7 linked regions of the Homo sapiens genome follow. The protein of the gene in region 5 purifies or fractionates together with the protein of the main gene of each other region. This does not show direct contact. Each region holds a gene or a part of one and is shown on either strand. Other genes may lie near its edges. The genes, in order: FARSB, NCAPD3, CCZ1B, CNN3, SCYL3, UTP6 and TGFBRAP1.

Region 1 (3,500 bases), on a different chromosome or scaffold from region 5:
TACTTTTGGCAGCAGAATAATTTCCTTATGGCCCAATACAATATAATTATTCCGACTAGATTACCAAATTCTCCATAATCCATCCTGTACTAAAATTGGTTGACTCTTCCTCCTTGTGGGAGGAGAGTCACTACAGACACCAAGAATCCATTCAGGCATGTCTTTAACTTCTACTTCCCGGTACTGCCTGCCACAATTTTATCCCTTAGAACCCAGAACAGCTGGGAGCAGATAAAATCTTCTTGGGTTATGAGGTAAGTTTTGTGTTGTATTTCCATATCGCACAGTTTTTCTATCTTCTGAGACTATAAGTTTACGATGTGCTGCTTCAGGATCTAGAATTACATCTACTTGAAATCGCTTGATAATTTTGTTTTGGCCACAATATTGTGGAGACAGATGGTAACCATATTCTTTTAATTTGAATAAAAAAGGTTTAGGGAATTTTAAATTCTTATGTCTGTGATAGATATCCTTAACATCAGCCAGTAATTCCAGTTCTGACTTCACATATATGCTCTCTATCTTCTTTAGTAGATATTTTAATGAGGAGGTATAATCTGAAAATTTTGTTAGGCTTTCATTTAGTTGTGCTAAAATATCCATCTCGTCATCTTGTAATTGCCCAAAAACAGTCTCTTGCTCATTTTGCAGAAATAACCTAAGTTGCTCAAATTCAGACTTGACTTCTTCTGCCGTATGTTTTACCTTTTTCTTCAGTTCCAGTGATTTTCTGGTTTGTATAGTTATGACTTTTTCAATTAGTTCCACTCTCTCCTTCCACGGTGCATTGTATTGCTCCAGTTTTTTCCTGATAGGAGGCAGCCTTCTTTATGGGCCAAACACAGCGATGCTGGTGATCAGTGGACAAACTGCACCTTGGACATAAAAGCTCTAGGTCTTTCTGAGAGAAGAAAGTCAAAACCTGATTATGCTTCTTACACACATGCTTCTCTTCCTGCCTCTTCCTCTTGCTTCTTAGCTGGAGTTGCTTAGCAATTTCAGTCAAACTACCCAGCTGGGGATTGCTTATAAATTTCCTTTCTGGACAGCACAAGTGGCAAAAGGGGCAGGGGAAACTATCATCTAGATCCTTCCAGGACATAATGATGCAGGAGAGACAGAAGTTATGCCCACAGCTGATGGTCACTGGGTCTTTCAAGTAGTCCAGACAGATGGGACAGCTAGCCTCTGCTCGGAGGTCAGCCAGGGCTGTCACAAATTCTACGGAGCCTGGAACAAAGATGGTAGGTAAGGTAATTCTTTTATTTTAGCAAGGCCTAGCTCTCTAGAGCTCAAGACCCACTATGCAGTGGATTCCTCCCCAGACCTTGAAATCTGACCAGCTTTCAGTTTTACTGACTTGGCATGTTGATGGCAGCTTCTAGAAACTTGTTAAGCCCTCAGCTCCTTAGCTTCAGACTTCACAGCCTGCAGCCTATTGCATATTAGAACTTATTAGCTGGGCTGCTGCTCTTCCCACTAAATGAAATAAAGTCAAGTTTTCTTCAAGAAAGCAGCCTCAGGTCCAAGATAAGGACTCCTTCCTGTAATCCCAGCTACTCAGGAGGCTGAGGCAGGAGAATCGCCTGAACCCAAGAGGAGGAGGTTGTGGTGAGCCAAGATCGCGCTGTCGCACTCCAGCCTGGGCAACAGAGTGAAACTATATAAAGCACATTGGGCCAGGCATGGTGGCTCACACCTGTAATCTCAGCACTTTGGGAGGCCAAAGCAGTGGATCACTTGAGGTCAGCAGTTCGAGAACCAGCCTGGCCAACATGGTAAAACCTCGTCTCTCCTTGCATTATAATCACCTGGAGGGCTTGGTAAAAGGTTGCTTGGGCCACATCCCCAGTTTCTGGTTCAGTAGGGCTGGTTTTTTCCTAAGTTCCCAGATGATGCTGCTGGCCTGCGGACTGTACTTTGTGAACTTATGCTGGAGCAGATGGATCAGAAACCCCGGCCAGAGGATGCTCAGGACCCATCAAGCCCCCGCGAGGAAGGACTCAGACCCCCAACCCCACCAAATTAAAGTATGTCTTTAATAGATAATCATTATTAACAATATTAAAATGTATAGCCGACTTGATTTTTTTAAATATTGTAATCATTATACAATCAAAAGTCAAAGAAAATGCTTCCTCATTTTTATAAGCAAGTCCTTAAAAAATATTAGTTCATTTTACAAGACCAATGAATATAGTAATGCATTAGTACTGGTTGAAGAGGCACGGAGGAAGGTTATGGGGGCAGAGGAGCTGAAGGAGGAGGCGCTGGAAGTGAAGGAGGCAGGGTAACTCTGGTTGAAGCAACATTTCTACTGCTTCTTGGTCCCTTTCTGTGATTAATTTGCCAAAGGAGGGAGCTTACTTTCATACTGGGGTTATCTAACACATTCTATCCATTTCCACAGCATGAGCCTGGTAACAAGGTGATTGTAGATGGAATAAGGCATGAACTCCTTTTGAGATTTTAGTCAAGGCAACAGACAGACATGGAGCTTAGCCCTCTGAACACAGAAATCATGGCCCACAAACATTATCACCTTAGTCTAACTATAAGGTAACAAAGATGAAATACAGTATAACCCTGAAAAATAAGCTTATGCACACAATCTTTGAAAAATAGACAAATATCCAATACATACAATTTCATCAAGCTCCAGACCAAATTCAAAACATAGTTCATCAAATTCTTCGTCAGCTAGGAAAATAAAAAAGGAGATGGTTAATTTCACTCTGTTCAGTATAAGTGAAAACTACATACAAACTGCATTTTCTTATTACTAATTGCCTTACACCAATCATACTACTAAATATCAGGCATCACATATTATCATTTAAAAACAAACAGGCCAGGCATGGTGGCTCATGCCTGTAATCCCAGCACTTTGGGAGGCCAATGTGTGTGGATCATCTGAGGTCAGGAGTTTGAAACCAGCCTGGCCAACACGGTGAAACCCTGTCTCTACTAAAAATACAAAATTAGCCAGGCATGGTGGCGCATGCCTGTAATCCCAGCTACTTGGGAGGCTGAGGCAGGAGAATTGCTTGAACCTGGGAGGCAGAGGTTGCAGTGAGCCGAGATCATGACATTGCACTCCAGCCTGGCTGACAAGAGCGAGACTCCGTCTCAAAAAATTAAAAAAAAAAAAAAAAAAAAAAAAAGCTGGGCCAAAAAAATTTAAGATAAAAAAAAGAAAAAACTATTAAAGGCTTGATTAATCTACACTAATATCAACTGTAGTTTAGGTTACCTGCACTGGGAAGTTTGCATGTACACAGAAGAAAAACACCTGTTCACCTGTTAAGTAGAGATCAGATATAAAGTAGGCTCCAAATCACAGATCTCACACAACAGAATGTCACATAAGTCCTATCAGGTAAAATGGTCTGAGGTGGCCTGACACTTTTGGCTTTGAAGCCAAGTCAATCAGAGTTTGAATTCTATCCCACTTATTAGATCTGAGAGTTTGGCACCTTATGTAAACTTTCTTGGTA
Region 2 (3,500 bases), on a different chromosome or scaffold from region 5:
GAAAGGCAGCACTCCTAAGCTCCGACTCCGATGCCTGCTCTTTGACTCCACGGCTTTCTTGACAGAATTCAGGATTGCAATGGTGCTCAGGGACATGGGCCTGTGGAGAACAGCCACAGCCGCTGACTTTCTCACTGCAGACCACTGCAGAGGTGACAGTGCTGCACTGTGTCCCCGCGTGCCTCCTCACCGGCGCATCCCTCACCACCCTCATTCAAACCTCCCAGGGCACAGTGTGGAGCGGGGTGGCAGGCCAGACAATGACAATGACTTTCCTGCCCACGCTTGGGAATGGCAGGGACGCCTCTGAGAACATCGCCACAGAGAACCAGCCCTGATGTGGCCTCCAGGGGCTCTTTACCTGGCTTTGGGCAGCAACCTCTGCAATGGCCCTGTTTCAGGTGTAGGAGATGATACTGCTACATGGCCAGCACTTGCCCTGGGTGTGCAGGGCTGGCTCACGGCAGGTGACATGGCAGGGTTTTCTTGGCCAGCAGGAACTGGCACTGTTTCTAAACACAGGGCAACCTGGTAGAGAAGATAAAGAGTATGTACATTCTAATACTTTTTAAGTTTTCAAAAACGGATATATGATAGTTGTACATGGTTGGGGGTCCATATGAGATTTTGATACATGTGGACAACGTAATGATCAAATCAGGGTAATTGGCATCTCCATCACCTCAAACGTGAGTATCTTTTCTTTGTGTTGGGAACATTCCAATTCTTCTATGTACTTTGAAATATACAGTAAATTGTTAAACTGTAATATCTCCACTGTACTGAATACTAGAACTTATTTCTTCTATCTAACTGTATTTTGGTACCCATTAACCAACTTCTCTTCATCCCCCTTCTCCCACCCCTTCCCAGCCTCTGGTAATCACCAAAAATCCACTCTCTAACTCCGTGAGATCAACCTTTTTGGCTCACATATATGAATGAGAACATACAATCTTTGTCTTTCTGTGTTTGGCTTATTTCACTTAATATAATGTCTTCCAAGTTCATCCATGTTGCAACAGATGACAAGATTTCACTTTTTATAGATGAAAAGTACTCCACTGTATATGCACCCCATTTTCTTTACCATTCATCCACTGATGGACATTTGTTTCCAAATTTTGCTATTGTGAACAGTGCTGCAATAAACATGGGAGTGCAGGTATGTCTTCGACATCCTGATTTCCTTTCTTTTGACTATACAGTCAGCAGCGAGGCTGCTGCCTCATATGGTACCTCTACTTTTAGTTTTTTGGAACCTCTATACTGTTCTCCATAGTGGCTGTTCTACTTTCCATCCCTACCAACAGTGTACAAGCCATTCCCTTTCTCCATTTTAACACTTTATTGGAATAGAATCTTCACGTACTATGAGCAAGTCCATAAGTAATGTACTTTGAAGCCATATCAACCCTGGGTAAGTTGAATTTCCTTTTCAGAAACAGAATACTATGAGAAAGCTGCCACTTGTAGATGCTGTGGCATGACAGAAGAGAAAAAGGAGTATGCTACTTTGTGCTCATTGGTCTTTCCTACAAGAGATCTGCCTGCATTCCTCAGGACGGTGAGCAACAGCTACTCCTAGAAATGGCCGTGTGCCGGTCTGCTCTAAAGAGGGAGTGCTGGGGGAAGATGCGGACACACTGACACACCCTGGCAGACCTAGGATCTATAGTCACCAGCTACTGCTGCTGCCAGCTCGCTTCCTGCACCACGTCCTCATGGAAGGGAGGTCTGGAGCACAGTAAATCCATCACAGACAGAAAGGCACGAGGGAGTGGCCAACAAGCAGCACTCTCGAGGCCTTCGGGCTGACTAACCTCTGATGACGGAGATCTTGAGAGGTGCCAGACAAACGACAGACTGGTAGCAGACAGCAGACTGGACTGTCTGGTCACAGTGCAGTGGGCCCCACACCTACCTGTGCCACAGGTGCCACCTCAGCACCTCCAGCCGTCCCGGCCACATCTGCATGTTTTGCTAGCTCCTGCTCCTGGACCAGCTGTTCCTGGTACTTCTTCATGTCATACTCAAGCTCTGATGCCAGCTGTTTGTCAACTGCAAAGAAGTCCTTGAGCTCATCTCGGTAATCCTGCATCACCTCCTGAAACAGAGCCAGGAGCATCCTTTCATGTTTTCTTGAATAAAAACGTAAAGCCCTAAACCCCCACGACACACCTTCGCCTGTGTAACAAACCTGCACATCCTGCACGTGTACCCCTGAACGCAAAATAAAAGTTAAGAAAGAAAAAAGCCCCCCAAGTCATGTTGCTTGATAAATCATAGGAACAATAGGACTGACATTACTGAAAGCAGATGATTTCCATTCCAGTAACTAACAGGTACAATGGTATATTTGGAGCAAACACCACTGGCCACACAAGCAGAAAAATATGTGAGTAACTAACAGTTCTCTCTCTTAGGAAGCATCCTGGCTATGTGGCAGTTAATGGGCAATCTCTCCCAGGTTCCCAATGGGAGAAAGACATGCTCAGACACAGCCTCTGGAGCAAGTCCCAGGATGCATGGATCTAAAAGCTGCTCATCTGTCTACATTAGCCTCCCCATTGGCTCTCAGGGGATTCCAACTAAGGCTCAAATCCCATCTTTGTGTCTTCTTCTGAAGATTTTACAGAAAACCTTTTCTCATACCTAGGGAAAAACATTCTTAGGTCTTAAAGAGGGGTGCCAGGGGCAAGACCACTTTGCTAAGAGAAAGAATCATTCCACCTAACAGTAATAGGGAGAAAAAGACACTGCAGTTCCAACTGGGAGGGAAGTCTCAACAAAGAGAAGGAATCCATGCACTTTTCCAGCTGCCACTAGGAGTGGGTTCCACAGGCCAATGAAGAGACTCCCTCAAGCTACTGACAACAAGCAACGTGTGGCCATCCTGTGTGTGTGCTCACAAGCAGGAGGAAGGCTTATTTTTCTTAAGTGTTTAAGTAGTCTATGTAGGATCAAAGCTCTGTTTTTGTTTTTTTTTTTCCTTTCTAGGGTCTAAAGTCAGGCAATAAATACAAGAATATTTGGAAGTTTTTATTTTTATCATACAATGAGACTATCTTTCCTACCTTGGCTTCCTAGTATAAAAAGCTATTTGAAAATTTATATTCAATGTAATTTTTGTTGAGGCCTTTATTGGAAAAAAAATTGTAGCATTTTTTTGAGGAAGAAAAACACATAATGTGAACAGAGCTATAACTGCTGAATTAAAGAAAAACTATGTTGCATTTATTTCTTAGTAAAAGATTTTGCAAGAAAGGTCTGAGGCCCCACTTAGGTCCGCCCTGCAAGTCAACACATCCTGGGTTTGCTCCGACTGAGCTCCTCATGGTCCCCTTGCTTGACAAAGAATTCAGCCTGGTGATGGCAGCTCCGAAGGCAGCTCCTGCAGGGCAGTTATTTCCTGACCTTGTGAATCTGAGTCAGTGCAAAAGGTAAGCACCCTGAAATCAAACCCGAAGACTCACTTTCACCTTACCCCCAAGCAGCAT
Region 3 (3,500 bases), on a different chromosome or scaffold from region 5:
AGCTCATCTGGTAGGTACACCCCGAGGCATGGTATTAAAAGAAGAAATTAAGATAATAAAAACAGCAGTGACTGGATTGATGACAGGTTGTCAAACAGGAACTTGCAGCGGGGAGGATGGGTAGGAAGCATCTTCATAGATATTGTCAAAATAAAGCAGTGATTATTTAAAGCAGAACTAGGGTGATTTGGGTTCAAATTTCCAAGCAGAGGAGTTTAAAACTGGCTGCATGAAAGATGAAAGGCTGGGCACGGTGGCTCACACCTGTAATCTTAGCACTTTGGGAGGCCAAGGCAGGTGAATCACGAGGTCAGGAGTTGGAGACCAGCCTGGTCAACATAGTGAAACCCTGTCTCTACTAAAAATACAAAAATTAGCTGGGCGTGGTGGTGCATGCCTGTAATCCCAGCTACTCAGGAGGCTGAGGCAGGAGAATCACTTGAACCCGGGAGGCGGAGGTTGCAGTGAGCCGAGATGGCACCACTGTACCCCAGCCTGGCAACAGAGAGAGACTCTGTCTCCAAAAAAAAAAAAAGAATGTTCCTATCAAGTAAGATTTAGGAATCCTGTTTTTATTTTGGAGTTTTTTTTTCTGAAATGATAAATGTTAAAAGCAGAATTTTTATACCTTTTTTTTTTTTTTTTTTTTTTTCTTATAGAGATGGGGTTTACTGTGTTGCCCAGGCTGGTCTCAAACTCCTGGCCTCAAGCGATCCACCCGCCTCAGCCTCCCAAAGTGCTGGGATTACAGGCACGAGCCACTGCACCTACTTTCTTTTAAAGAAACTAGATTTTTTTTAATCCAAGAAATCCAAAGTGTTATATAAACCAGGAAATTACCTGCTATCGTGAAACTAGGTTTGTGTCCTGCAGTAGGAACAACGTGGGCACAAGACTGCCCAGCATATATGACCCCTGAGAGCTGGGTGGCAACCGAGGTTGTGCACATTTGGCCTAGAGTAGGTGGACAGAAGTCATCAAGGCTTGCAGCTGTTCCGGGACCCTCAAGTTTTATGTTCCCATTGACTAGAGCCCTCTTTCTTTCTTTCTTTCTTTCTTTCTTGTCTTTCTTTCTTTCTTGTCTTTCTTTCTTTCTTTCTTTCTTTCTGTCTGTCTTTCTTTCTGTCTTTCTTTCTTTCTTGTCTTTCTTTCTTTCTTGTCTTTCTTTCTTTCTTTCTTTCTGTCTGTCTTTCTTTCTGTCTTTCTTTCTGTCTTTCTTTCTTTCTTTCTAACGGAGTCTCACTCTGTTGCCAGGCTGGAGTACAGTGGCGCGATCTTGGCTCACTGCAACTTCCCCTTCCTGGGTTCAAGCGATTCTCCTGCCTCAGCCTCCCAGGTAGCTGGGATTACAGGCATATGCCACCATGCCCGGCTAATTTTTGTATTTTCAGTACAGACAGGGTTTTACCATGTTGGCCAGGCTGGTCCTAAACTCCTGACCTCAGGTGATTCGCCTGCATTGGCCTCCCAAAGTGCCGCGATTACAGGTGTGAGCCACCGCACCTGGCCTAGCCCCGTTTCTTAATTAGGGGTGTGGCCATATGGTACTACTATAAGGTAAGTTCAGCTAATAGAAAAGGCAAAACTAGTTCCCCTAAAATTTACCTTCCCTGCCAAAATCTTGTAGCTCCATTTTAAGAAGAGAAACAAGTTACTGTAAAGAAATTTGAATCCAGTTAATAAACAACTTGGTGGGTTTCCACATGAACTTTATCTCCTAGGAAGACAACACAAATTTCAGGTGAAACCCATCTACTTTTTTTTTTGTTTTTGAAATGGAGTCGCTTTCTGTTGCCCAGGCTGGAGTGCAGTGGCATGATCTTGGCTTGCTGCAACCCCTGCCTCCTGGGTTCAAGCAATTCTCCTGCCTCAGCCTCCCGAGTAGCTGGGATTACAGGTGAGTACCACAACACCCAGCTAATTTTTGTAGAGACGGGGTTTTACCATGTTGGCCAGGCTGGTCTCGAACTCCTGACCTCAAAGGATCCGCCCACCTCGGCCTCCCAGTGCTGGGATTACAGGTGTGAGCCACTGTGCCCGGCCTCCACCTACTTTCTAATTTGACAAATAGTTTATCAGGCAACCTTACGCTGTACTGACTCAGCTATAGTTGCTTTCTGTGATATGTACACAATGTTACTAAAGTGAAATTCTGCTGTGAAATGTAGGAGATGGGAGGCTAGTTGTGCTTCTGTAGCATCAGGTCTGCAGAGGGATGGCTCCTCCACAGATGGAAATGACAGGACGTGCTTGCAAATCACACGCAGCCACGGCGATAGGGAGATGTCGTGTGACAAGCCAGAATCCAGCAGTAGTGGCCCATGGCCTTGCTTCCACCAAAAAGAGAAGGGTAGCTGAGATTCTGATCTCTGGGACAGAACACAAGCCCCGCCATGGGTGCAAACTCCTGAGAGTGAGGAAGAGGGAAGGCTTAGAGCAGAGGGTCTTCCAGGAGCTCATTCTGGGAGACCCTGGAGCCAGAGTGACCAGCAGCGTTGGCCCTTTGAAGCCTGGAGTCACAGGACAATCTGGCGCCCAGCTCTGGGGATCCTGTTGGCATCGTCATCTTGGAATAGCATCTGAGGGGTTGAGCAGGGCACAGCTCTGGTGGCTGCACAGAACTGCTCGGTTGTCACCTCCAGTGTGCTCGTGGGGAAAGGTCAGTCCCAGGAAGTAGCAACAAAAATAACCTTCAAGAAAAACAGCCTCTTACTCCAGGCGCCAACGCTTACACCTGTCATCCCAGCACTTTGGGAGGCTGAGGCAGGAGGATCACTTGAGACCAGGAGTTCAAGACCAGCCTGGGCAGCATAGTGAGACTGTATCTCTACAAAAAATGCAAAAAAAAAATTAGCTGGGCATTGTGGTGTGCACTTAGAGTCCCAACTACAGAGACTACAGAGGTTGAGGCTGGAGAATCACTTGAGCCTGGAAGTTTGAGGTTGCAGTGAGCTATGATAGCACCACTGTACTCCAGCCTGGGTGACAGAGCAAGACCCTGTCTAAGAAAAAGAAAAACAGCACGTTTTGATGGAATTGCTTATTCCAAAGCTGTTATATTAAATACCAAAAAGACTTTTAAGCCAGGCGTGGTGCACATACCTATAGTCCCAGCTACTGGGGAGGAGGAGGCAGAAGGATCGCTTGAGCCAGGAGTTACTTGGAGACCAGCCTGGACAATATAATGAGGCTCTGTCTCTACCAAAAAGTGGAAAAAAAACATTTGTCACAAGCAGAGTATATATTACCCTTATGTATTTACTTAGTATATTGCTTTGATTTTTTTTTTTTGAGACTGAGTCTCATTTGCTTGGTTGCCCAGGCTAGAGTGCAGTGGTGTGATCTCAGCTCACTTCAGCCTGCGCCTCCCAGGTTCAAGCGATTCTCATGCCTCAGTCTCCCAAGTAGCTGGGATTAGAGGTGTGTGCTATCAGGCCTAGCAAATTTTTATATTTTTTAGTAGAGACGGTGTTTTGCCATGTTGGCCAGGCTGGTGTTGA
Region 4 (4,242 bases), about 75 Mb from region 5:
AAAAAACTTTGGATTTTTTGTAGAGACAGGATCTTGCTATGTTGCCCAGGATGTTCCTGAACTCCAGGCCTCAAGCAATCCTCCCACCTCGGTCTCCCAAAGTGCTAGGATTACAGGCATGAGCCACCACACCTGGTTCACCTTACTCACTTCTATTCCAGGACGGTTCAACTATGATGTTTTGGCTCCTCTTCTCAAGCAGCTTTCCACACCTGGTTCCATGATCTCTTCTGGCACAGTAGCTGGTATTTGGCAAACATAGGTTTCATCCTGGGATCTCAGGGATTGAAATCTGTCCTAGGTGTGCACCAGAAAGTGGTGGCAAGAGATGAAGCTTCGGAGGAGGCTGACCTCGGCCAGGATTCTTAAGTCTCAAAGTTTCAGCTTTCTCACCCCTCAACGGACATGAAATCTACCTATTTGTAACTCCAGGGAAGTAAATGAGATAATGTTTGGAAGATATCTAGTCTACCAGCTGCTCAGGCGGGGGGCGAAGGTTCTGTTCCCTGTCCCTTCTCTATCAAATGGCTTTAAAATCAGAAGAAAGTATTACGGGTAGGAAATGGGACTGCGAAAAAAATGGAGGCTGATTCTGGCCTAAAGGATACTTATCTCTATACAAAGGGCTTCTGATTCAAAGAGGCCCCGGGATTCAAAAACACAAGCAGAGCTACACCACGTGGGGTTTGGGACGAGCTGAATTCCGGATAAAGATGCCTGTAAAGAGGAGTTGATGCGAATCCAGAAAAGCACTTGAAATGCCCAGGCTTTGCATGGCACATTCCCCAGGATTTTTTCGCACCGCATTTAGAGGTTTAGACGGAGTGAGCTCGAATCAGGCCAAAAGCCTTAGGTTACTCCTGGGCGGCAGCGGGGCAGAGGTCAGATCAACAGGTGTGGAAGGCTGCGAGGTGAGGGAAGAAGCAGGTGTCGGTGGAGGCCCCAGTTCCTCCGGCCCAGAGGCTCCAACGCTGCTATTGGTGTTCCAGCAGCGGGCGGAGGGGTCCTGCCCGGCATCTGGGCGCGCTGGGCCCAGAGCCCGGGAGGAGGCAGACGGAGGCGGCGGGTCAGCGGCGGGCCAGCCCCGGTGGGCTTCCGCTCCCCTCCGCCGGCCCGGTCCGGCCCGCCGCGGAGGATGCCTGGAGGTTGACGTGAATGGCCTGTGGCTGGGAAGCCCCCAGGCGCCCTGCCTAGCCCGGGGGCGGGGCCGCCTAGCCGCCGGCCCCGGTGGCGTGAGGGCTGGGGCGGGGGCCGGGGACCTCGCGGGGAGGGAGCGGGAGGGAAAGCGGCCCCCGCGGCCCTTCAATTGGCCGCACCGCCCCTCGGCGCAGAGGCGGGAGGAGGCGGCCCTCCATTGGTCGGGCCCGGCGGCCAATCCTCGAAGGCCCAGGCGGAGGCGGGGGCGGCCTGTGGGGAACCGAGGTGCGGGCGGCGAGCGAGGCAGCCGGGTGCTTCGCAGCGGAGCTCGAGGCTCTGTAGCACCCAGTTGGACCCAGTCGCCCAGGCACCGCCCGCGCCCCGCGGCCGTCTCCTGCGCCTCCCAGAGGAGGGAGTTCGAGCATCCCCCGCGGCGGCCACTCCTCGGGGCCAGGAGCGGGGAAGCGAAGTGCGAGAGACCCCGGACCCCAGCGCTGTCTCTTCCCGCCGCCCGAACCACCATGACCCACTTCAACAAGGGCCCTTCCTATGGGCTCTCGGCCGAAGTCAAGAACAAGGTACGCCTGGCTCGGGCGGGCGCGGGGGCCCCCGGGGCACCCTTGGGCTGGCCTGGCGCTGGGCCGTGCTTCGTTTGCTCTTCGCGCTGTGGCTCACCGTTTTCCTGGAGAGGGGCCGTCGAGGCGGCGCGAGCGTCTCTGCCTGTCCCGGTCGCGTCCAGTCCCCGGGCTTGCGGGGCCGGCTCCCGGGCACCCGCCTGGCTTTGTTCCCGCGCCGTGGGACAGGACTAGTGGCTGGCGGTGGGTTCCCGGGCGCCTGGAGTCCCGCGGCGCCAGCCTTTCCGGCTGCGGGGGTCTCGGGGGCCGTTTGGTGACTGCAGAACGCGCCCTCCGGGAAGGGGGCGCTCCTGCGTGGCCACTCGCCCTTAGGCGGAGCCCGTCTGCGCGGCCAGGGACCCGGCGAGCCGCTGCCGCAGCCCCCGCCATCTGCCCGGGCCCCGGGTGCTGGCGGACTCCGCGCCTCCCCACGGGGAGAGAGACCGCCTAATGTCCCGCCGACCCCAGGGGCCCCGAGGAACGGAAGCCGGTCCGGGACCCATCACAGTCTCCGATCTCGGTGCCTGGGAGGCATTTGGAGGCAGATTGCTGCTGCTGCTTCTGCTGTTGCTTTTGCGGGAAATGGAGACAAAGCCTGAGCGCGCCACTGTGCGAGTGATATCTGCTTAGGCTTGAGACTTTTTATGAAACACTGAGAAGTTTGAAGTACATTAGACTTTCACGACATAAAGGATTATTTTTGTGGGTTGCTTTTGTTTGGGGCTTGTTTGCTGAGGCGGCTTATAGTTTGGAGCGATTGGGATTTGGTGACGCTCAGCTTTGCCACTGAGCCCAAGAATGCGTTAGGTTTATCTTTAGGACTTTTGGCCTGGGAAAGAGATGAGAGGCGTCCCCCTCCCCAAATCCTCTCCTTCCTTCCTCCCTCCCTGCATTCCAAGCCCATGACATCAGGGGTTTCTGGGGGGAGAGACCAGCCAATCGGCGCGGAACTGTGCACAGAACGCTCATTGTCTCCTTTCTGCTGTTCTGGCCAAAGCGCCACAAAGGAGGGCTGCCTGTGGTTTAATTCCCATTAACCTCCCGGGAGCCCAAGCATGTCAGGATTGCCACCGCACCGTCCGACCGCTGGTGGAAGGCACTGGCATTGTCAGAGCTGGAACATCCCGGGGCTGCGGGGGTAGGCGGTGTGAAGCGAATTATGTAAAGAGGTAATGAAGCGCACCGTTGTCAAACCCCAAGGGAGAGTTGTGGCTCTTGTCTCCCGCTGTTAGTCTGCACATCATACTGTCTTTGAAGCAAGGAGTTGATTTTAGTCTATGTATCTAAAGTTGAAATGTTTAGGTCCTTTACCTTTTCAAACGTGTTGCCCGTATTAGACAACAGTTTGCTAACAATTTTTTTAGAGAGCAGAAAGGTGAATGGTTTGTGTATGATTGAGTGCAAACCTCACCAACTGAAAAGTTTGTAACAAGTTACTGTTTCCTTCCTTCCAGGATTTACAAACCGAACTTTAGGAAACTTCAGAGGAATGGGCATGTCCAAAATGTTGGATGTGATGTGATACTTTGGCCTGGTTGTGCACATTCATTGTAATTCCCCCCAGTGATTCTTGGCTGGCAGCAGTTGAGTCTCTACTACCTTTTGCATTGTAAATGAGGTACTGATAACGTTGGCAGCCCTTCAAGTGACTTACTTTTCTTGGATGTTAATAATATCCATGCTAATTTCTTTTTTGCTGACTAATGTAGCAGCTTTTGCCCTTTTCCTGCTTAATACTGAGCAGATCCAAGGAAATGCATACACAGGCTAGATCACTGTAATTATTGTAAATATTTAAAAACGGTAAAACCTCAGTTTTTAGAACCTTTGGAAAGTTAGTTATGAAAGCTGTGGATTTATCCCTTTAAGCACCAAACCCATTTTTTAATAACCCGTTTCATTTTTGTAGTCCTTTCAGACAGTATTCTTTCATAGGAAGTCTTTTGATCTTAACAGCAGAGCAGTCCTGTAAGGTGAGGAGGATTGCTGGGATTATCCAACATCATTTACAGATCAGTACACTGAAGCTCAGAAAGATTTGCTCAAGGTCACAGAAGTTGGACTATTCTAAGAATTTTAACTCTAAAAGCGATGTCTTAGTTGAGTGAAGTACTTAGGGATGTTCTACACAAACTCTGCTGTCTGTCGCCTTCCCCCCATTTTTTTTTCTTTCTTTTTTGAGACGGAGTCTTGCTCTGTCGCCCAGGCTGGAGTGCAGTGGCGCGATCTCAGCTCACTGCAACCTTCGCCTCCCAGGTTCAAGTGATTCTCCTGCCTCAGCGCCCCGAGTAGCTGGGATTACAGGTGCCTGCCACCATGCCCGGCTAATGTTTGTATTATTTAGTAGAGACAGGGTTTTGCCATGTTGGCCAGGCTGGTCTCCAACTCCTGACCTCAGGTGATTCCCCCTGCCTTGGCCTTCCAAAATGCTGGGATTACAGGCGTGAGCCATGGCGCCCAGCCCTTCCTCCCATTTTTGCTACCCACCTGT
Region 5 (4,140 bases):
GATCATTGTCTCCCCCAGGAATTTGAACTAAGAACAATTTTTGCCTATTAGAAGCATAGCCGAAGGTAGAAGGATGCTATGAGGTGGAGGTGGAGCTACGGCAAACCAAAGCCACATGAAGTCAGAAACTTTCCAGAGGAAGTCAGTTGGTAGTAAAATTTTAAAAAGCAAACACTGGGACCGTAGCTTAGTCATACTTAGGGGGCACATTACTACTATCCATCTCAAGACTACCGGAAGCCCAGCCTCAAATCTAATTCCACCCAGATACCCTAACATCCCATTGACACCCTTACAACCAGCCCCCTTTTCCTCAGGTAACTTGAATGGGTCTATGTTCTTTGAAACTAATTGCCATTTCATAGGCAGAAAGCTCTACTTGGTCTCCAACTCCTGCCTGAAAAGCCAGTCAGACTGGAAGAGTGAGTTACAGAAGTGTTACTTTGAAAGTATCTGAAGCTAGTCTGACCGTCTCTCTCTCACCCACAAAACACAGCTTTCCAAAATCAACACACAATTAAGAGAAAAGCAGAGAATAAGGGACTGTATATTAATGAATATCTTCTTCGCAGGAAATCATGCTGTTTATTTAAGTGTTAATATTAATCCTCATGGGAGATAAGACTGCCACCAGGATTCAGGGTCAGTGCTCTGGCTGATGAATGGCAGTCACCAGAGGCAAGAGAAAGGAACATTTAATTTACTTAGCTATTTCTAAATAGCAAAATACTTCCTTGTGGGAACATTGGCCTTGCAATAGCTATTAACCTTAGATTTCATATGAATTCCACTATAATTAACAAAGTTATAAAAGCATTAGGAAGTAGTTAAAATTCATTTTTCTTACTGTATTTTAGGTCTAAGACTAAAAAAATCACTTAAAAATTAAAAAGGGATGACTCAATTTCTTGAGAGAACTGGAAAGGATGCCATTTTCTTGTTTTGAAAGCATGTTAACTTTGACAGAAGTCCACTGATACCATCAGTGTAATACTGACAGTGGTAAGATTATATTGTATGTTCCCAGTGCAAACTTTATTGGGGGAAAATTAAAAAGGTGTGCTGATTATTGCAATTTGAGAATGTTTTGAAGCAGTAATTCTTCACACTAATATATCTAAAGAAGCACAAATACTGTTATATGAAGAAGTTTTTTTGTTTGTTTTTTGTTTTAAATAGAGATATGGTCTTGTTCTGTTGCTGCTGGCCTAGAGTGCATTGGCGCTATCCTATCTCACTGTAACCTGGAATTCCTGGGCTCAAGCTACCTGCCCTCCCCAGCCTCCCTAGTTGCTGAGATTACAGGCATGTGCCACCATGCCCGCCAGTGCTTTAAAAATGATAATTCAGCTAAAATTGATTTATTGAAATGTAAGAAAAACACTTGGCCTTCCAAAATGCTTTCCTGTTGTTTTGAGGACGGGGAAAACACAAAATCTTGCTCATTAGCTTTGAAATTAAAAAGTCACAAGAAGGTAGAAAAGGATATCCTAGTATCCCGTAATAGGTATTTCGTAGCACTTAGCATCTCCACTCTATAATAAAATGCTGAGTTGACAGTCTCTGACTTGAATATGCATCAGTCTTCCCTTTAATAATCTCCCTCCACTCTTTTGCCTACTTGGGCAGCACATAAAATTTCTGGACCGCTTGTAGATTAAGAAAACCCTTGTCTAGGTCAAAGGGCAACTCATACACTCAACTAAGAAACCCGTGTGCTCTATGGAAATGTTTCTACCAAATATTTTCTTTTCCCAGCAATTACTCGAGACTACCTTGGTCCTAGCTCCCTTAGCTTGAAAGTTCCAAAGATAATGGCTTGCACTCTGAGTATTAAGGATGCACTGTACTGGCTGATATTCTGGTATCCAGCGGTAACGTTACTCCGGCCCTTGCTTTCGTGTTTCAGGTATATATTCCCTCTGCGGAACTCAGTCCAGCATTGCTAGCTGACAAGCAATACACAATTAAGTCTTTATGGACCAAAATAATTGTGATTTCAGCTCAAGATACATTTTATAAGAACATGGGTCCCTAAAAACAGCAGTTAACAGTGACCCCCAAAATTCGAGACCCGACTCCGAGAATTTCACATGGATTCCTGAATATGCTCTTCCGAGAAATGTTTCATCTTTATTCTAAACAGAAAGCACTATGCCAAGACAGGAGCCAGCTGGGCCTTGGGGGACGGGCACTGGTCTTGGATCAAGAATGAGGCCGCCTTCCCGAGGGCGGGCGCGCCCCCAGGATCCCCCCGGGCTCGGGCACTGCCGCCCCGGGACAGTGACCCGCCCAGCCGAGCACCCTCGCCCTGCTTGCCGCGACCCCGCGGGGTCACTGAAGGGCCGAGGCGCCGCTCTCGCTTCGCTGGCCCCTCACCTTCCACACCTCCCTGCGAGGACCGACTCCGCGGCCGCCTTGGAGAGCTCTGGCCGCGGGCGCCTCACCCGTCGGGGGCCGCCCGCGAAGCGCAGATTACAGGGCGCCCCACAATCAGCAAGGGGAGGCTGCTCCGAAGCTGAGAGCACAGCTCAACCGGCCGCCGGCGCCGCGCCGAGCTCGCTCCCGCGCGGGCCCCAGAGCGCAGACCCGCGAGCGGGGCGCGCGCCCGCCGCCTCCTCCCCGCCCGGCCCCTTCCCCCACGGCGCAGTCCTGCAAGGACTGGGGGCGCAGCGCAGGGCTCCCTGTTACCTGCAGGAAGGCGGCGGGGGAGGAGGCCGAGGGTCTTGGCTCTGGTACCCTGTTGGCCCCCCTGTTGACACCAACCACCCCTGCCTGCCTGTAAGGCTGTGGCCACTACACCCACAATCTTCTGGGGGCCGGGTTTCTCCTACACCATAGAGACGGGTCCGGAAACGGGACAGAAGGCCCACCTTCCTCCCTCCGACGCCACCAATGAGGCCAACTAACCAGGAACCGAGGTAGAGAGGCCGCACAGCTGAGTCTCAGGCCGGTGCCATCTTAAGTGTGGGCGCCGCGACGATACCGAGTTTCACTCACTGCCCCAGTGGTCTAGTTAGTCCACGAAGATGCCCCCTTTCTAGATGTGTTGGTCGAATGCTTAAGTTTGTCTTGACTTGAATTTTTAGGCTTTTAACAGCACAGTTTTAATTTCATTTCCGCCCAAATCCAAAATGGCTGCTGGCCACTTGTAGCAAACAGTAGAGGTGCAGGGCGGAGAAAAGGAGTACGGGAATTAGCGAGGACTTTCAGGAGAGTGACGTCACTCAACCTGTAGCTTTGATTGGCTGGGCTGCGAGGGTGGAGTCGTGCAGAGCCGCTGCTGGCGGAGGTCGTGGTGATCTCGCTTGATCTTTGAGAGGGAAGGTCCTGAATCACATTTCATTTAGCAAAAAGTAATATTTGAAAATTTTAATATTAATGCAGTAGTTTTGCCCCCCTCCATGCTTTCTGCAGTGTCAGTTACCTGTGGTCAAACCTTGGTTCAGAAATGTTAAATGGAAAACTCCAGAAATAAACAATTCTTAAGTTTCAAACCGCCTGTATTCTGAGTAGCCCGATTAAATCTCGGGCCATCCACTCTGTCCCACCCTTGACGCGAATCATCTGTCGCAGGTAGCCGCGCTGTGTACAGTATCCACTCATTACCCACTCAGTAGCTGCTTTGGTTAACAGATGCACCCGTAGTATAGCAGAGATAATGAGAGATACCACCTGCTTATGTTCAGGTAACCCTTATTTTACTTAATAATGGCCGCAAAGCACAGGAATTGTGCTGACAATTTGGATATGCCGAGGAGAAGCTGTAAAGTGCTTCCTTTAAATGAAAAGGTGAAAGCTCTGGACTTAATAAGGAAAGAAAAAGAGTCATATGCTGAGGTTGCCAAAATCTATGATAAGAACAAATTATCCATGAAATTGTGAAGAAGGAAAAAGATTCGTGCTAGTTAACTAAGCACCTATCATGCACTGTGGCTGTAACTTTTGTAGTTTGAGGTGCAACAGCAAAAGACGGAAAAGGCATTACATTTGTGGGTGGGAGACATGAACAGAAAACGTATTTCAGCTGACCGCAGTAAGTTTTGCCAGAAAGTGTTGAGCCTATAGGAAGACTTAAGAAAGGGATCCCCTGAAATTAGGCACACCAAGCTATTTACTGCAAGTAAGGGATGGCTACAC
Region 6 (3,500 bases), on a different chromosome or scaffold from region 5:
TAATTGAAATAGAGTCTCTCTGTGTCACCCAGGCTGGAGTGCAGTTGCACAGTCTCTGCTCACGCTCACCGCAACCTCCGCCTCCTGGGTTCAAGTGATTCTCCTGCCTCAGCCTCCCATTCCTTCACAAATTTAAAATCAGTTCTAGAATGATGAGCTTAACATCAAATTTTTTTTTTTTTTGAGATGGAGTTTCACTCTTATTGCCCAGGCTGGAGTGCAGTGGTGCGATCTCGGCTCACTGCAACCTCCGCTTCCTGGGTTCAAGCAGTTATCTGCCTCAGCCTCCTGAGTAGCTGGGATTACAGGTGCCCACAACCACGCCAGGCTAATTTTTGTAGAGACAGCGTTTCACCATCTTGACCAGGCTGGTCTTGAACTCCTGACCTGGTGATCCACCCGCCTCGGCCTCCCAAAGTGCTGGAATTACAGGCATGAGCCACCACGCCCGGCCAACATCAGTTTTTTAAAAAAATTAAAAGAATTCCAGAAACGTTCATTAGATAGATATTTCTGAACAGGAGTAGCATTGGGAGTAGCATTACTCCACTAAGACTGTAGTCCTGGCCAAACTGAACTTACTTTTCCCCTCCTCTTTCTCTCTTGTCGTTTTCTTTCTTTTTTTTTTCTACTGGGTTTGTAGATCAGAGATTGTCAGAGACATAGTGTGTATCAGGACTTCAGCAAGAGATTTGCCTCTTGGTGAGCAAGATAGAGGAGAGTGAATGTGATGAGTGTAGAGAATTGAAAAGTTACTGCTTGTTTATCTATTGTCTGTCCACTTGGAAAGAGGTGTACTGCAAGATTTTTTCATCTTGTAAATGCATGGAAGGTTTGAATAAAGAAAAATTATGTCAGACCAATTTTCCAGTGGGGGAGAATAGCTAATATGTTGGATGACGGAATCAGGATTCAGAAAGAACCAATAACAAGATCACATGTTTATAAGACTAGAAGTTTTGGTTGGGCATGGTGGCTCATGCTGTAATACCAGCACTTTGGGAGGCTGAGGCAGGCAGATCACCTGTGGTCAGGAGTTCGAGACCAGCCTGGCCAACATGGTGAAACCCCCATCTCTACTAAAAATACAAAAATTAGCCGGGTGTGGTGTTGGGTGCCTGTAATCCTAGCTACTCAGGGGCTGAGGCAGGAGAATTGCTTGAACCCAGGAGGTGGAGGTTGCAGTGAGCCAAGATTGTGCCATTGCACTCCCAGCCTGGGAGACAAGAGCGAAACTCCATCTCAAAAAAAAAAAAAAAAAAAAAGACTAGAAGTTTTGAGCTTAGATTTAAAAAGACAAAAGACAGCCGAACAAACAATATATGAACCTTGGCTAAGCTATTGTTTTTGGAAGAGGTCCTATGAGTAGATTGCTCACTCAAAATGAGCCAAGACCATATTATGTCAAAAATAGATTTTTTTTTTTCCAAATAATACACTCACTCTTGCCCAGGCTGGAGTGCAATGGTGCGAGCACTCATTGCAGCCTCGAACTTCTAGGCTCAGATGATCCTCCTGCCTCAGCCTCCCAAGTAGGTAGGACTACAGGCTTGTGCCAGATGGCTGGCTAATTTTCTTATTTTTTGTAGAGATAGGGTCTCCTTATGTTGCCCAGGCTGGTCTTGAACTCCTGGGCTCAAGTGATCCTCCTGCCTTGCCGTACCAGAGTTTTGGGAATTACAGACTTGAGCCAGTGTGCCCAGCCAAAAGATTTCTTAAAGCTAAATTAGACTGTGAAAGCACAAACCATGAGAGAAAAGACTGATTTATTTGATTGTGTTCAAAATACAAATTTCTGGAGGGGCGTGGCGGCTCACGTGTGAGACAGGCAGATCGCTTGAGCCCAGGAGTTCAAGACCAGCCTAGGCAACATGGCAAACCCCATCTCTACAAAAAATACAAAAATTAGCTGGGCATGGTGGTGCACACCTGTAGTCCCAGCTACTCTGGAGGTTGAGGTGGGAGGATCAGTTGAACCTGGGAGGTGGAAGCTGTAGTGAGCCATGATGGCGCCATTGCACTTCAGTCTGGGTGATAGAGACCCTGTCTCAAAAAAAAAAAAAATTTTTTTCTGTGCAAAAAAGACACTACAAATAATGTGAAAATACAAGCCACAAAATGTGAGAAAATATTTACAACACATAATTAGAACTACATATACACATATATAAAGAACTGTAAATCGAGAAGAAAATGAAAACTAAAAAGAAAAATGGGCAAATCATGTGAACGTGAAAGTCACAAAGGGGAAACATCACTTGTAGTTAAACTTATGAAAAGACATCAGCCTTATCAGTAATTAGTTAAATAAAGATTAAAACAAGGTGTAGGGGCCGAGCGCGGTAGCTCATGCCTGTAATCCTAGCACTTTGGGAGGCTGAGGCGGGTGGATTACTTGAGGTTGGGAGTTGGAGATCAGCCTGGTCAACATGGTGGAACCCCATCTCTACTAAAAATACAAAAATTAGCCAGGCACGGTAGCACGTACCTGTAATCCCAGCTACTGGGGAGGCTGAGGCAGGAAAACTGCTTGAATCCGGGAGGCGGAGGTTGCAGTGAGCCTAGGTTGCGCCACTGCACTTCAGCCTGGGCGACAGAGCGAGACTCCATCTCAAAAAAACAAACAATAAAAAAAAACCAGGTGTAGGACTGCTTTATATTCATTATAAGAGCAAACTTTTTTTTTTTTTTCTTTTTTGAGATGGAGTCTCGCTCCGTCACCCAGGCTGGAGTGCAGTGACATGATCTCGGCTGACTGTAACCTCTACCTCCTGATCAGCCTCCCAAGTAGCTGGGATTACAGGCACACACCACCAGCCTCGGTGAATAGGGATATAGCTAAAGGGATAATGTTGAGTAGAAATATGGATTGATGGGCCGGGCACGGTGGCTCATGCCTATAATCCCAGCACTTTGGGAGGCCAAGGTGGGTGGATCACTCGAGGTCGGGAGTTCAAGACCAGCCTAGCCAACATGGTGAAACCCCATCTCTACTAAAAATACAAAAATTAGCCGGGCATGGTGGCAGGCGCCTGTAATCCAAGCTACTCGGGAGGCTGAGGCAGGAGAATCTCTTAAAGCCAGGAGGCAGAGGTTGCAGTGAGCCGAGATTATGCCACTGCACTCTAGCCTGGGCGACAGAGGGAGACCCCGTCTCAAAAAAACAAAACAAAACACCTATGGATTGATGGATGTAGCATGATACCATTTATGTAAAATTTAAAGGCATTCAAGACATCATTATAATAAAGTCCAAAGTCATGTTTGGGAATGATAACAAAGTCAAGGTAATTGCTGCCTCTGGAGAGGGAGAAGAGTAGAATCAGAGATAGGTACATAGGTAGCTTCATTTTTATACGAACTGTTTTATTTCTAAAAAAGATTTGAAGCAAATGTAGTGCAATGTAGGTTTGGTGTAGCTGCATTGTAGCTGCATGGGGTGTTTTATATGCTTGAAATATTTCATGGAATAATTTTTAAGTGAAGCATGTAATTATAAG
Region 7 (3,500 bases), on a different chromosome or scaffold from region 5:
AGTCCCTGTGAGCGGGAGCAGGGCAGGGGATCAGAGAGCTGGAAAGAGGACTGCAGAGAATGACGGGAGCTGCAGGGCAGCTGGCTGGGCTTGCGTCAGCACTGCTGCATGTTCAGAGAGCTTGAAGTGAAAGGCTGCTATCACTGTCACTTCCTCATCTCAAGTTGTCTGAACATGGAACAGTGCTGCTTCATGAGAGCTTAAGTTCCTAATACTTGGAGGCATTCCAGCAAAGCAGGGAAGACCTCTCAGAAATATTCAAGAAAGGTTCACGCATCAGGGAAGGGAAGGAATCAGAGAACTTCTTTGGTGCCTTTCAAATAGAAAATTTGGAATTCTACAATTTTGTGTCTGCCCCCATCCATGGGGGCAATGACAGCTACACACAAGTGAGACTCCAGCCCCCTTCCTTAGCTCTACAAAACCCCCAGGAGGGAGGATACCCCAGGGTTGAGGAGGAGGCTTGTCTGTAGACACATCAGTCCTTCCTGTTTTCTTCCCATCACTTGAGCAAATTACTTGGTGCTATGGTCAGAATGTCTGTGTCCCCCTAAAATTCATATGTTGGAACTTAATCCCCAGAGTGGTAGTGTTGGGAGGTGGGGAGGTGATTAGGTCATGAGGGTGGAGCCCTTATGAATGGCATTAGTGCCCTTATTAAAGAGGCCCCAGAGAGCTTATTTGTTCCTTCCATCCACTATGTGAGGAGGCAGCTGCAAGGCACCACCCCTGAGGGATGGGCCCTCACCAAACACTGAGCCTACCATGCCTTAATCTTGGACTTCCCAGCCTCCATGAACGGTAAGCAATACATTTCTATTATCTATTAATTACCTAGTGTATGGTAGTTTGTTACAGCAGCTGGAATGGACACTTGGCTATTCCAGCCTCAACTGCCTCATCTGTGAAATGAGAATAACGGTACCTACTTCATAGGATTGTTGGACGATTAAGTAAGTGACCTCATATAAAATGCGGACAGCTGGCACACAGCACTCAAACTTTTGGATCTCATCATAAATACTATGATTCCCTCCCAGTCTGGATCAGCTCTCACTCCTCTCTCAAACTACCAGCTTGCTTCAGGTGTTTATTTCCCAAGCTGGGCACCAAGAGATTAGACTATGCTGTCTTCTGTCCTCAGATATGGGTAACCTGTTCACCTCCGCCAAAACACAGCCTGCATCATAAGCCAGAACACACACTCACACACCTGCCCCACCCCTAAGACATCTTCACACTCACCTACGGGAGCTCATCTTCACAGAAACTATGGAAAAGAGCTGGGGGAAGTGTAGAGGGAGGTTCTAAAGGCACCACAGAGAAGGAATCATGTCCATCTACCTCGGGGCTGTGGGAACATCCCCAGAATCCCAGGTGAGGCCGAGTGCAGAACTCTTGCAGGCTTCTACAAATAGTCTCTGGCACAAACAGCTCTTAAACAACATCATGTATTTGTCCCAACCAAACATAACCACCAAAACCCACCTAGACAACATTTTTTTCTCCATTTAAGAGCTAATGAGTAAAACCCAGATATTGAAATGTCAGCTTCCAGACATCTAAGTTAGTGAAAGTGAAGTAATACAAAATACTTCTTCCTTCATTGATTAATCAATCAGGGTTGTCTTTTTTAAATGGCAGGAGTAAGCAGTTCTGCCATTTAAAATATAAATTGTGTCTCCCTTTGCGGAAGGAATAGAGAAACAAACTCTGGGCACCTACAATCAAACTCCTTTTATTTAGCTTCTTAAAAGTATAATATTCATAATTCCAGCCCCTGTCTTCAGTTAGCATAAGGGATAAACTAAACACATTTGCAGTAAAGAATATTATAGAAAGAATCAAACGCCTCATATTTAGTCTAAATCCTGGGGTAGATAGAGAAGGGGAGAGGGAGAGAGAGCTGTAAAAAAAAAAAAAAAACAAAAAACAAAAAAACATATGGTTTACTAAAAAGTCATAACTCTATAATATTTAAAAACAAATGCAATATTGTTTCATTATCTAGTAAACTGTTATTCAAGCCTTGCTAAAGATAAGCTTCCTATTATAGGCCTTTAAATTAAGGACTTGCTTTGGTAATTAAATGGTAATAATGCAGAATTACATGGAGGTAAATGAAAGCTGAAGAAGTAACATGCTAGCACTTAAAAATGACTTATCCTTAACCCTGTCTCTACAAAAAAAATATAAAAACTTAGCCAGACCTGGTGGGGCACACCTGTATTCCCTCCTCCTCAGGAGGCTGAGGTAGGAGGGTTGCTTGAGCCCAGTGGTTTGCGGCTTCAGTGAGCCATGATTGCACCACCGCTCTCCAGCCTGGGAAACAGTGTGAGATGCTTTCACACAGAAAAAAAAAGAAAAAAGAAAAAAAAATTGGCTAGGAGTGGTGGCTCACACCTGTAATCCCACCATTTTGGGAGGCTGAGGCAGGCGGATCACCTGAGGTCAGGAGTTCAAGACCAGCCTGCCCAACATGGCAAAACCCCGTCTCTACTAAAAATACACACACAAAAAAAAGTTAGCCAGGCATGGTGGCGGGCACCTGTAATTCCAGCTATTCAGGAGGCTGAGGCAGGAGAATCGCTTGAACTGGGAGGCAGAGGGTGCAGTGAGCCGAGATCGTACCACTGCACTCCAGCCTGGGTGACAGGAGCAAAACTCCATCTCAAAAAAAAAAAATTAATTTAAAAAACTATTTTTTTTAAGCAGTGGGAAAATTCTCTCCATGATCTAATTCACATGATATATTTACTTAGATAAAATATGAATCATAAAAAGATAAACTTTAGGCCACACCTCTATTAAATATAACTTGCTGGGGTTCTGAATCAGAGAAGTTTCAACATGGTAATGTTTCAAAAGGAAACGTTTCTCTAAGGTGTAAAATTCATACTTTACTGTGTGATCTCAAAATGATCGAAAATTTAAACTTTTTGTTAGAACTTCACTTTAAGGCTTACCTATAATCCTAACACTTTGAGAGGCCCAGGCAGGAAGATCACTTGTGCCCAAGAGTTCAAGACCAGCCTGGGCAAAATATTGAGACTTGGTCTCTATTTTTAAAAAAAATAAGAATATTAAATTTAAAAAATTCACTTTAAAAGTATGATTATAATAATTTAAAAGATCAACATTTTAATGTTTTCTTAAAATTTCAAAATACATACCCAGGTAGGGAAGAGATTGGAAAATGCTAGGATGCTCAAGGACCATAATTTAATTAAGCTAACCTTGCATATGCAGCAAGCACCTCTAAGTTTGCAAAAAACTAAACAATTACAAGACACAATCCCACTTCCTAAGAGTCTCCCCGTCCTATTAAGGAAATAGGACTAGAAAAATAAATCAGTAATAGTATAAAGCAATACATGCTAAGGGTCAAAATAAAAATATTAGTAATTATTTCCTACCAGGTTAAGAATATGCACATTGTCATTTTAAAGATTCTGCCACTGGTGATAGTCAGAATCTTAGTCAGCATCTTTAAAGATGCT

Evidence for each region.
Region 1: the proteins of SCYL3 (region 5) and FARSB purify together in Homo sapiens (affinity purification with mass spectrometry; one large-scale study listed by BioGRID and IntAct). This does not show direct contact.
Region 2: the proteins of SCYL3 (region 5) and NCAPD3 purify together in Homo sapiens (affinity purification with mass spectrometry; one large-scale study listed by BioGRID and IntAct). This does not show direct contact.
Region 3: the proteins of SCYL3 (region 5) and CCZ1B purify together in Homo sapiens (co-immunoprecipitation; one large-scale study listed by IntAct). This does not show direct contact.
Region 4: the proteins of SCYL3 (region 5) and CNN3 purify together in Homo sapiens (affinity purification with mass spectrometry; one large-scale study listed by BioGRID and IntAct). This does not show direct contact.
Region 6: the proteins of SCYL3 (region 5) and UTP6 purify together in Homo sapiens (affinity purification with mass spectrometry; one large-scale study listed by BioGRID and IntAct). This does not show direct contact.
Region 7: the proteins of SCYL3 (region 5) and TGFBRAP1 purify together in Homo sapiens (co-immunoprecipitation; 2 studies listed by BioGRID and IntAct, with this or other methods). This does not show direct contact.

Annotation. Positions count from the first base shown.
Region 1 is NC_000002.12:222,646,093-222,649,592, forward strand, and holds part of FARSB (phenylalanine--tRNA ligase beta subunit), read right to left. Parts: intron 2,704-3,500; coding exon 2,648-2,703; intron 2,034-2,647; exon of another isoform or gene 1,749-2,033; intron 905-1,748; exon of another isoform or gene 709-904; intron 255-708; exon of another isoform or gene 1-254.
Region 2 is NC_000011.10:134,157,968-134,161,467, forward strand, and holds part of NCAPD3 (condensin-2 complex subunit D3), read right to left. Parts: intron 2,108-3,500; coding exon 1,925-2,107; intron 529-1,924; coding exon 362-528; intron 101-361; coding exon 1-100.
Region 3 is NC_000007.14:6,816,276-6,819,775, reverse strand, and holds part of CCZ1B (vacuolar fusion protein CCZ1 homolog B), read left to right. Parts: coding exon 1-10; intron 11-3,500.
Region 4 is NC_000001.11:94,924,311-94,928,552, reverse strand, and holds the start of CNN3 (calponin-3), read left to right. Parts: upstream 1-1,442; 5' UTR 1,443-1,658; coding exon 1,659-1,715; intron 1,716-1,812; exon of another isoform or gene 1,813-2,193; intron 2,194-2,783; exon of another isoform or gene 2,784-2,920; intron 2,921-3,205; exon of another isoform or gene 3,206-4,242. UniProt on the Homo sapiens protein: Thin filament-associated protein that is implicated in the regulation and modulation of smooth muscle contraction. It is capable of binding to actin, calmodulin and tropomyosin. The interaction of calponin with actin inhibits the actomyosin Mg-ATPase activity.
Region 5 is NC_000001.11:169,891,097-169,895,236, forward strand, and holds the start of SCYL3 (protein-associating with the carboxyl-terminal domain of ezrin), read right to left. Parts: upstream 2,801-4,140; 5' UTR 2,692-2,800; exon of another isoform or gene 2,380-2,691; intron 1-2,379. UniProt on the Homo sapiens protein: May play a role in regulating cell adhesion/migration complexes in migrating cells.
Region 6 is NC_000017.11:31,895,209-31,898,708, reverse strand, and holds part of UTP6 (U3 small nucleolar RNA-associated protein 6 homolog), read left to right. Parts: intron 1-3,500. UniProt on the Homo sapiens protein: Part of the small subunit (SSU) processome, first precursor of the small eukaryotic ribosomal subunit.
Region 7 is NC_000002.12:105,309,236-105,312,735, forward strand, and holds part of TGFBRAP1 (transforming growth factor-beta receptor-associated protein 1), read right to left. Parts: intron 1-3,500. UniProt on the Homo sapiens protein: Plays a role in the TGF-beta/activin signaling pathway. It associates with inactive heteromeric TGF-beta and activin receptor complexes, mainly through the type II receptor, and is released upon activation of signaling.